Linked DNA regions of Homo sapiens. The protein of the gene in region 1 interacts with the protein of each later gene in a pairwise test. Each region holds a gene or a part of one and is shown on either strand. Other genes may lie near its edges.

Evidence for each region.
Region 2: the proteins of CFAP298 (region 1) and UNC13B interact in a two-hybrid assay, tested with the Homo sapiens proteins (one large-scale study listed by BioGRID and IntAct).
Region 3: the proteins of CFAP298 (region 1) and ZNF624 interact in a two-hybrid assay, tested with the Homo sapiens proteins (one large-scale study listed by BioGRID and IntAct).

What each region holds. Positions count from the first base shown.
Region 1 is NC_000021.9:32,605,753-32,609,406, forward strand, and holds part of CFAP298 (cilia- and flagella-associated protein 298), read right to left. Parts: intron 1,965-3,654; coding exon 1,897-1,964; intron 1-1,896. Other genes in the region: CFAP298-TCP10L (uncharacterized protein LOC110091775), read right to left, coding at 1,897-1,964. UniProt on the Homo sapiens protein: Plays a role in motile cilium function, possibly by acting on outer dynein arm assembly. Seems to be important for initiation rather than maintenance of cilium motility.
Region 2 is NC_000009.12:35,301,374-35,305,027, reverse strand, and holds part of UNC13B (protein unc-13 homolog B), read right to left. Parts: coding exon 1-3,654. UniProt on the Homo sapiens protein: Plays a role in vesicle maturation during exocytosis as a target of the diacylglycerol second messenger pathway.
Region 3 is NC_000017.11:16,629,809-16,633,462, reverse strand, and holds part of ZNF624 (zinc finger protein 624), read left to right. Parts: intron 1-3,654. UniProt on the Homo sapiens protein: May be involved in transcriptional regulation.

The DNA.
Region 1 (3,654 bases):
GGTGATCTCACCCTTTAACTTTTAGGTCTGATGCTAACTCCAGGCAGTTAGTGTCAGAATTGAAGGATCTGCCCTTGACCTGTGGGGTCTGTGCTGTCTCTGAGTAGTTAGTGTCAGAACGGAATTGAATTGACTGGCAGGACCCCCAGTGGGCATCAGAATGCAAAAGGCTACAGGAGAGCCTTAAAGAAAGCCACAGCTGTGGAAGTGAAAGGAAGAGGTGGACTTAAGAGGCATCATGGGAGCAGACGGTACAGAACCCCACTTCAAACCTAGAGGTGACAGAAGGGAGAAGTGTTGAAGATGACACTGAGGATTTGCCCTATAAAACCAAGACACTGTGGTTCTGTTACTGGAAACAGAGAAGCTCATAGGAGGTGCTGATTCTCAGGGACAGAACAGAGAGGGAGAGGAGTGAGGAAGCAAAGAGCTCATTTCTAGAAAACTGGACTTCAAAGTGCTGACTGGGTGTTCAGATAGAACCATCTCACAACCAGCTGGAAATTCAGGTTGGAAGTGAAGCAAGATGTCAGGGGGAAAGGATGGAAGCTTCAGAGTTATCTGCAGAGGGTGGAATTTGCATTTGGCAGAGTAGATAAGATACTGAGAGAGGAAGAAGACCAAGGATAAAAAGTACTTTCAGAAGTACACAGGCAAAGGGGAGAAGTGAGGCGACCGAGAGAGGAGTTCCACAGCAAAGTGTGGGGAGAAGGGTGCAGAACAACAGCCAGACCACTGTTTTCTTGCCATGGCCTGAGACGTGCTCACATGCCTAGATGCCATCACCACGCAAACGACGGGCTCAACCAGGGCCTCTCCTGTAGAGCTTCATAAAGCCTTTCCTATATTAACAGGCACAGAGCTTCAGGGCAGCCTTTGCTGAGGCTCTTCAAAGATTAGTCAAAAGCTTGGTAAGTTTGAGAAATATTGGTTTAAAAATAACAGTTCTGCTGAGCAAACCAGGAGAAGCAGAAGAAAAAGTGGTGATCAGTCAAGAGACTTGCAGTTGAGAGCGGTAGCAACTAATATCACCAACACACAAATACAAGCAACAGATACAGATACCACTTCTTTCAATAGCCTTAAATTCTCTTCCTCCAGATACACATTATCTGTATATCAATGGTATAAATTTACGCTCCTCCCTCTATAAACTAGCCTTTGTATAAAATGCTGAAGACAATTACAAAAAACCATTTATATCAAATACATATTAAGTCAATCAAGTGTCTGGAGAGCTACTCGATGGCCACAATATTCAAATCTCCCCTACTTAACTTTGTTAAGTTCTTCAAAAAGGTAAAAGAAATGAAATCAACATTTGTATTATACATATTTGTATTATACGTGAACCTATATTTACATAAGCCAACAAAAATTTGTGTCTGCCTGGAGGAACGGAGAGGCCTCTGGGCAACCGTCAGGATTATGAAAGGAAAAGCTACAGCCTACCCCAAATACGCTTGTTTCCTTTGCCTCCGGAAGGCTGAAAGAGAAGGCTGGCTGAGAGGCAACTCTGGAAGCCAGAGTTGGAGTTTTATCTCAAAAGACAAGTTTTAGGCCGGGCGCGGTGGCTCATGCCTGTAATCCCAGCACTTTGGGAGGCCAAGACAGGCGGATCACCTGAGGTCAGGAGTTCGAGACCAGCCTGACCAACATGGAGAAACCCCGTCTCTACTAAAAATACAAAATTAGCTCGGCATGGTGGTGCATGCCTGTAATCCCAGCTACTCGGGAGGCTGAGGCAGGAGAATTGCTTGAACCCAGGAGGTGGAGGTTGTGGTGAGCCGAGATCGCACCATTGCACTCCAGCCTGGGCAACAAAAGCAAAATTCCATCTCCAAAAAAAAAAAAAAAAACCCAACAAGTTTTAGTGCATCATTTAAAAAAGCCAACCTTAGATATTATTGCTTTGGCTTCTTCTATAGTCTTCTTTAACACTTGCTTCATCTTCTCATTTGGAGCTATAAAAATAAAAAGGAGAGAGGGAGAAAGAGCTGTCAAATACAAAGCCTCTTCTGAAATACCTCAATCCCCTCTGTCTGAGTCAGGGGGTAAATGAACTGAGAGAGAGTGCGAGTGTGGAATTTAGGGAAGAGAAGCAAGAAACCTGGCTGCCGGAAGTTAGGTGAAGACCTCTTCCCAACAGCAGAGACCTGGAGTGTGCTTTACGCAAAGTGGCAAAGGCTACAAAAAACAGAAATGCATGTCGTTGGGTAAACAGGGCCGGTGAACTTTTTCTGGAAAGGGCCAGAGAGTAAAATTTGAGGCTTTGCAGGCCACACAGTCTTGTTGGGTGGGATAACTCAGCTCTGCCACGTAGCACAAGAGCAGACAATACTTAAATAACTGGGGTAGCTGCGTCTCCTTACAATTTTATTTACAATAGGCAGCTGGCTAAATTTGACCTGTAGCCCATAATTTGGTGACCCCTAGATCAGGAAAAAATAATAACTTGAAAGCTTAGAAGCCAAAAAAAAAAAAAAAAAAAAGAAGAAGATGGAATGCCCAAACCTAGGGAAAATGGGGCAAGTTGAAACCATACATTCCTAGTAAATAACAGTATTAATTAGACATTGAAAATATTAGAAACACAAGATTGTATTATAATAGAAGTGGTTAGGCTGGGCGTAGTGGCTCACGCCTGTAATCCCAGCACTTCGGAAGGCCAAGATGGGTGGATCACCTGAGGTCAGGAGTTCGAGACCAGCCTGGGCAACATGCTGAAACCCTGTCTCTATGAAAAATACAAAAATTAGCCGGGCATGGTAGCAGGCATGTGTAATCCCAGCTACTCTGGAGGCTGAGGCAGGAGAATCACTGGAATCCGGGAGGCAGAGGTTGCAGTGAGCCGAGATTGTGCCACTGCACTCCAACCTGGGTGACAGAGTAAGACTCTGTCTCAAAAAAAAAAAAAAAAAAAAAAAAGGTGGTTAATTTAAGAACATATTACATATTGGTTTAATGATGAATAATGAACTGTTAACTGGTTCTCATATTTTTTTTCCTCATCTTACCACATCTTCTTACGTAAGAAAGCTGTGGAAGACAACCATTTTTCAGGTTAACATTGAAAGGAAAAAATACTAGGAATTCTTACTATCCCTGATATTTAAAAAAATGTATTTTTGAGCTGCTAAAGGCCTTGCAGGAATACTGTTCTTTTACTCCTAACAGTGTTTTAGGGCTGTTCAATTACAGTGTTTTAAATGGCGCTTTTAATGCAGGTTAAAAAGAATAAGCTATCAAAAAGGATTATCATCAATTCCACATGATCAGCCAAACACTGAAAGGAGAGGAATTTCCTCAGTGTTTTGCCGTGTACTGAAGTGCTCTGCCCCAGAGAGAAGCATGTCCTTGATCAGGGAAGTCCATGTGCTGACATGCTTTCCCTTTCCTCTTTCACACAGTCCATCTCGAAAGATCCCCCAACATTTGCGAACAGTAACAAAACACAACTCTGAATACATTGCGGTGAGGACCTGCCAACAATTATTAGGTGGAAACACATGAAATTGCCAATACTCAACCATTTTTGAGCTACAGAAGGGAAAGGGTCATTTCATCTGGTTCGTCGAATACATATAAAAGCAAGCTGCAACTTATTAAAGAGCAAGACAAAAGCTTCCTTTATCTACCTAATTCATCCTAGAT
Region 2 (3,654 bases), on another chromosome or scaffold:
CATCTTTTACACCTGATTTAGCCTGAGGAGTTGTTTGGCTTACCTGGAAACCAGATTTTAACAAACTTTGCTTTTTCACATGGTTGTTTTTATTTAAAGAGAATTCTTGCCTTATATTTTTGATCAATTCTGGATGCTGAACATTGGATACTATCTGTCTTTCTGAATCCTTAAGAAGACTTTTTTCCACATTTGGGGAGTTACCCTCTAATTGCTTACTCATGATTAATGACTGAAAGCCATCATTTGTGAGCTCTGCTAAATCTGACTGCTGATTCACTTTCTGCATGGCCAAAGCCTCTAAGGATTCACTCTTATCAAACTTCAAAGTACTACCAACTGAGGCACCCAAAACAGAAAATACTGAAGCCACTTTGTTCACTAATGATGTCTCTTCTGCTTGTTGTGAGCCTTTAGTCATATTTTCAGGATGAACCAAAGTGGTAACTTCTTCAACAGAAGACTGAAGCCAATGGAAACTGGAAAGGTGAACTGATGAATCTTCAGCTAGAGGCTGGTTTTTATCTCTCTCTATAATTTGATCTCTGCTTGAGACATGATTACTAATAGTTTGGGGCTGATTTCTGAGATCTAATGTACATTCAGCGTCTTCAGAACCACACGGCCTTTCTTTGAAAGATCTAAAGTCTCCTTTAAACTTTTGACGATTATAGCCTGAAAAATCTAGTGGCTGATCGCTTTGGTCACAACTTGACTCTTTAAGTACTTGTGAAAAGGTTTCTAAATTTAGATACAATGGTTCCTCACTTCTTGGCAAAGCTAAAGATAAATCAAGAGGGTCATCAATTGGTTCCTCTTCAACATACCAAAATATTTCATCTTCCTTATCAAGTACTTTAAAACTACAGGCAGAAATAATGCTGTCATCCAACGTAATACTTGATAGACCATTTGTCTGTAAATCACAATCCAAATACTCTTGATAAGAATCAGGTATAAATAAATATGCATACTGCCCAGTAGAATCAGTGAGAAGAGAATAGATATATTGACCATCATGAAACATATAATATCCATAATCCCCATCCTCTGATGGCCACCACACTCCATGTTCAAGACATGACAACCATTCCTGGTACTCATAACCAAAACTTGAAAAAACAAAGTTTTCATCCATTCTTAATGATTCTTGATCAACTACGGGGCATGTAGTCTTTTCATGATCTGATGAAGAACTTAAGTCAATGGGTAATTCTTCTAGTGAATTATTAGCCTCATTAATTGGAAGAGGACCAGAGTTTCCATATAATGAGTTAGCTGCCCACACATCACCTCTTAATAAGTAATCTTCATTAAATGCTAACTGATTGAATGATTCATATGGTAAGTCACACCAAATGACACTGTTTGGATTTGTTCTCCACTCCAAGATGTTTGCATTTTGATCTTTTTGGCAAAAATTTATCACTGAGTTTTCTGAGTCAAGCCACAAGCAAGCATCGGCTGATAGAAATCTATTTTGATTTAACATATAATAAACTGGCTGAAGTTTTCTGGAATTTTTAGACAAATCTTTTATGTCAGAGTCCCATTCAAAACAGAAAGGACTGTTCATCTCTTCAAAAGCCTGATAGTTGTTTGATTTATTGAGAATGTTGGTATTTAGTACAGGTGAATTTAACTTGTTTGAATTTTCATGTAGTTTTGCCTCAAGAACATGGTTTGGCATTTGCCTCTTAGCCATAGATTTCTCCAAAAAACCTAGCTGAGCACTTGGAGCACAGTGAAGTACAATGTTCTCAGAGGAGGGGTGATGCTTTTCACTTTGCTGGTTTTTCTCTGTAGGGGAACAATAATGATTATCATCCCCAGCATCAGATAATGGTATGTTTTCTTTAGGTAATAAGGAGGCTTCTATGAAGCTAGAAGTTTCATGTTTTTCAACATGGTTCTTCGGGTTCTCAGAAGTCACACATGAAGTAGCAGGGACCTCATCCAAGGATAAATGGTTATCTCCATTCAAACTCTTCATGTTGCCTAAAGACATGAACTTTGCTTCCTCTGGTTTATGATCAATCATACCGCTATTTGATAGCAGGTTAAATATTCCAGAGATTAAACCTGGGGTATTATTCTTGTGATGGGAGTCATCATTTTTCAAATTTAATTCTTGACTAGACAAATTTTCAGCAGAAGAAAACCTATTAAACAGGCCAGAAAGGAAGCTTCCTTGGGTATTTTTCTTGGAAGTCTTATCTATAACCTCATCTTCATTAATTTCATTAACCAAAGTGGATTTGGAAGTGGTAGAAATACACTCTAATGAAGAGTCTGATGCTACTGAAGATGCTGCTTGTATAAGATTCTTATCTTCTCCTAAAGGATCTGAAGTTATATGTTCTTTGGGCACAACTCCAGGGATGGCTAAGCCATCCCTTTCAAAATTCTGTCCTGCTGTGTGGTCACTTGGATTTAATTCCTCTATATTCCCAAATTTCCCCAGATCATTATTAATATTTGTAACTGAATCAGACTTTATTATATTAAATTTGGCATCTTCAGGACTATTTATTTGGTCATTCTGATTAAATTCCTCTGTACTGTCAAATTTCCCTAGATTATCCTGAGTATTTGGAGCTGAACCAGATTTTATTGAACTAAGTTTGGCATCTTCAGGACAATTTACTTGGTCATTCTTATTAAATTCCTTTATACTGTCAAACTTCTCTAGATCATCATGAATATTTGGAACTGAACTAGATTTTATTGAATTAAGTTTGGCATCTTCAGGACAATTTATCTGGTCATTCTTTTTAAATTCCTCTGTACTGTCAAATTTTCCTAGATCACTATGAATATTTGGAACAGAACTAGATTTTATTGAACTATGTTTGGTATCTTCATGGCAATTTTTTTTGCTCTCCTCATCAGTGGTTACTGCTGAGCCACGTAAACTCTGGTCATTAACAGTAACCTTGCTGTCAGTGAAAGAAAATTTAAACAAAGGAAAAATGCTTCCTTTCTCTTTTAACTCCTGTTGCTTTTCAGAATGACCAAGACTTCTAAAAAATGGAAGATTTAGTTTTCCACTAAAGGAAAAGGAATGACCATCTTTCTTAGAGCCCCTTTCTAAACCATCTTCCTCCACCTGGCGAATTTTCACAGGTTCTGACAAACTTTCCTTTGAACAAGTCTCAGGGGAAGTGAGCAAAAACTGGCTAAATGATTTTCTGAGTGGCTCAAGGAAATCATCATTACCTGTAACTTTGTCCTCCTCTAATGGCTTTGAAAATACCTCTTTATTTGCAGTTCTACTGCCAGCTATACAAGGATGTCCTGGAGTATCTTTGGCACATATTTTTTGTTGATCTGGTAAAAGAGACAGATCTATACAGAGTTTTTCTTCCAATAGACTCTCATCATTTTTACTTGCAGAACTAACTAAGTTTGAAGGTTCACTGGTTACTTGGGAGGACAACAAATTCTCACTTGTGGGCATCTGGAACCAGCCCGTAGTTTCTTCATCACTCCCATTTAAAGCAATGATGCTACTACTGTAATTGTCAAGAGTGCCTTCCCTTTTATTTAACTCCAAACCACACTCAACAAAGCTTTCTTTTCTTGGTGGCTTACTCTGGTCATCATCTTTTTTTGTTTCCTCCTTTTCTGAAAAGATCTTCAATGGATTTAACC
Region 3 (3,654 bases), on another chromosome or scaffold:
TTAAGGCAAACTTATTTACTCATTATTTAGTTTTCTTCACCTGCAAGGCTACAGAAACTTTGGAGGAACCCACCACCTCTCCTCCAGGTTTTTAACTAATTGCTAATACAAACAAGGAAGCAGTTGAGAATCAAAATATAGTATTGATGTATTTAATCAATATTATACATCTATATACTGTGAACTGGCTTAGGTACAAGGGCTATAGCAGCTAATAAAATGGACCAGGTCCCTGCCTTCATGAAGATTAAATTTTGAGAAATAGATAATTTGGCAAACAAATAAAAACAAACTAAAATGGTGGTTGCCATACCTCCCAGCTATGAGATAAATTGGAGGATAAGAAAGAGTAACTGGGGTGGGATGAGGACACCTGCTTCAAACAGGGTGGTCAGGGGAGCTTCTGAAGAGGTGACATTTAAGCCGAGACCTGAAGGGTCAGAAGAAGAAAACAGTAAGGGGAAGAGGAAAAGAGAAGTATTCCAGGCTAAGGGAACAACAATGCAAAGGATCTGATACAGCAGAGAATGCCATGTGTTCTGGAAATCAAAAGGAAGCTGCTGTGACTAAAGTGAGGGGAAACTGGTACAGAATAAGATTAGAGATGTAGCAGCCTGCCTGTGCAGGGCTTTGTAGATGATCTAAGTGAGTTCCAAAGCATGGAGAGATTCTACTGCAGGGTTTTTAGAAAATAACCCTGTTTATAGAGATTGAACTTGAGGCATAAAGCAGGCAGTAAGTTAAAAGGTTGTTACAATAGTCTATCCAGGAGATGATAGTAACTTTGATTAGGGTGATGGTAGTGGAGATGGAAAGAAATAGATTCTGGTTCATTTAAGCATTCATTTTATTATGATGCCATGAACAATCCACACATGAATTACGTATTTTTATATATCAGATATTATTTATACTTAAAAGAGTGAGTGAAAAGTAGACATTAGAGATAGTTTTAGATAACTTTTTAGAGAGGGATTTTTTTTCCCCTACGAAGAGGGAAAGAGAAATGGAGCAGTGGCTAAAGGAAAGAATGGAGTCAAGAAAAAATACTTGTTTTATTTTTGAAATGGGAGCTGCTATGACATGTTTGAGTGCTGATAGGATTGCCTTAATGGAGAGAGAGACATTGATGTTGCAAGACAAAGACGAAGGACTAAAGTGTTTGACAGGGTTAAAGGAGATAAAATCTAGAAAGGAAAGGGGGATTTACCTTGAATAGGTACAGAGGTCACCTCCTGTGTTGTAATACTGAGAAAGGTGGAGAAGATGGGTGCACCTGCATGTCAGTTGAGGGCAGGAAGATTGAGGCCACTATTATGATAGCTGCCATAGTTTCTAAAATGTGAGGCAAGATCATTAGCTTATGGTGAGGGAAGAAAAAATTGTGAGAGAGGGAAAGTTATTTTTTATGGTAGTGGAATTCACCAGGGAAGCCATCTTGGCCTGAAGCTTTTATTGGGAAAAGTGTTTAATTATAGCCTCTATGCCTTTAGTACTTAGGACTGTTCATATTTCCTTTTTCTTTTTGTTTCAGTTTAGCAAATTATGTTTAGGGATTGTTCCGTTTAATCTAATTTTAAAATTTATTGGCATACTATCGGTTTATCATTTAAATGTTTGTATGGATCTGAAGTGATGTGCCACTTCTTATTCCTGATACTGGTTTTTTGTGTTTTCTTTATTTTGTCTTACTCAGTCTTGCTAGAGTTTATCAATCTTACTTGACTCTTTTTTTTCTTTGAGACAGGGTCTCATTCTATCACCCAGGCTGGAATGCAGTGGTGTGATCATAGCTCACTGCAGTCTCAAACTCCTGGGCTCAAGTGATCCTCCTGCCTCATCCTCCTACATAGCTGGGAGTAGAGGCACACACCACCACACCTAAGATTTTTATTTTTTGTAGAGGAAGGGGTCTCACTATGTTGACCAAGCTGTTCTCGAACTCCTGGGCTCAAGCTATCCTCCCACCTCGTCCTCCCAAATTGCTGGGATTTCAGGTGTGAGTCACCATGCCTGACATTACTTGGCTTTTAAAAACATTACTGTTTTTAGTCCTTTTTCTTGTATGTTTGAGTTTTATTACTTTCTGTTCTTTATTATTTTATTCCATTCTTAGAGCTTAATTTGTGGATCTTTTCTAACCTCTTGAATTAGGTACTTAGATCGTTGATTTTCAGCTGTTCTTCTTTTCTAATTGTTTAGGGCTATCAGAACTATATCACACTTTTTTATGTAGCATCTTCATAATTTTTGAGTGGAAAATATTTTATAATTTCTATTGTGATATCTTTTATCCTTGGGTTATTTTTAAATGTTTTTCTTAATTTTGTGCCATTTGGGAATTTTCTAGCAATCTTGTTGACTTTAATTCTACTATGGTCAGACAGGATGCTCTGAATTATGTCAGTCTTTGCAGAATTTTGTAAACATTTTGTGCTCTTGAAAAAATGTACAGCCTATAGGTAGGTATTGAGTATTGAGTACAATTTCTAGATGTGTCAGGAGATTAAGTTTGTTAATTATGTTAAAATCTGTATACTTACAGCTTATTCTATCAATTGAGAAAGATTTTTTAAAGTCTGCTAGTGAGACTATACATTTGCTTCCTATTTAGTTCATTTAATTTTTTTCTTTCTGTATTTGAAGCTGTGTTATTATGTAAATACAAAGTTATAATTGTTATCTGTATGGTAAATTGGCTTTTGTCGTTATGAAGTATCTCATTTCTTAAAAGTTTTTGCCTTAAAATCTGTTTTGTCTGATACTAATATTACTACAGCATCTTTCTTTTGGTTGTTATTTGTATAGTATATCTTTTTTCATCTGCTAACTTTCACTTTCTGTGTATTCTTGTACTTTTTGTCTTTATTTTTAAGGTAGTATATTGTTAATTTTTTATTTTTTTGAGACTGAGTTTCACTCTCGTCGCCCAGGCTGGAGTGCAATGGCGTGATCTCGGCTCACTGCAAACTCTGCCTCCCAGGTTCAAGCGATTCTACTCGCTCAGCCTCTTCAGTAGCTGGGATTACAGGCATGCACCACCATGCCCAGCTAATTTTTGTATTTTCAGTAGAGATGGGGTTTCACCATGTTGGCTAGGTTGGTCTGGATCTCTTGATCTCAGGTGATCCACCCACCTCGGCCTCCCAAAGCGCTGGGATTACAAGCAATAGCCACCACGCACAGCCTCTTCTCTTTTTTTTTTCTAAAAATATCTTCATTTGGCCTTCATTTTGGGAGGATATTTTTGGTAAGTTTGAAATTTTAGATTGGCAGTTATATTCTTTCAACATTTCAAAGGTATCATTTATTGTTTTCTGTCTTATGTACAATCTGTGGAGAAGTGAACCATCTGTCTAAACTTTTCTATAAAAGGCAGGGCAGCAATATTTTTGGCTTTGTTGGATCATAAGGACTCTCTGCTGTGACTACTCCACTCTGCCATTGTAGCACCAAGGAATCCATAGGCAACATATTAACCAAGTAATGTGGTTGTGCTCCACTAAAACTTCACTTATGGACTCTGAAATTTGAATTTCATACATTTTTAATGTCTCACATTCTTTTAATATATTTTTCAACCATTTTAAATGTAAAAATTGGCCAGGCGTGGTGACTCATGCTTGTAATCCCAGCACTTTGGTAGGCCAAGGC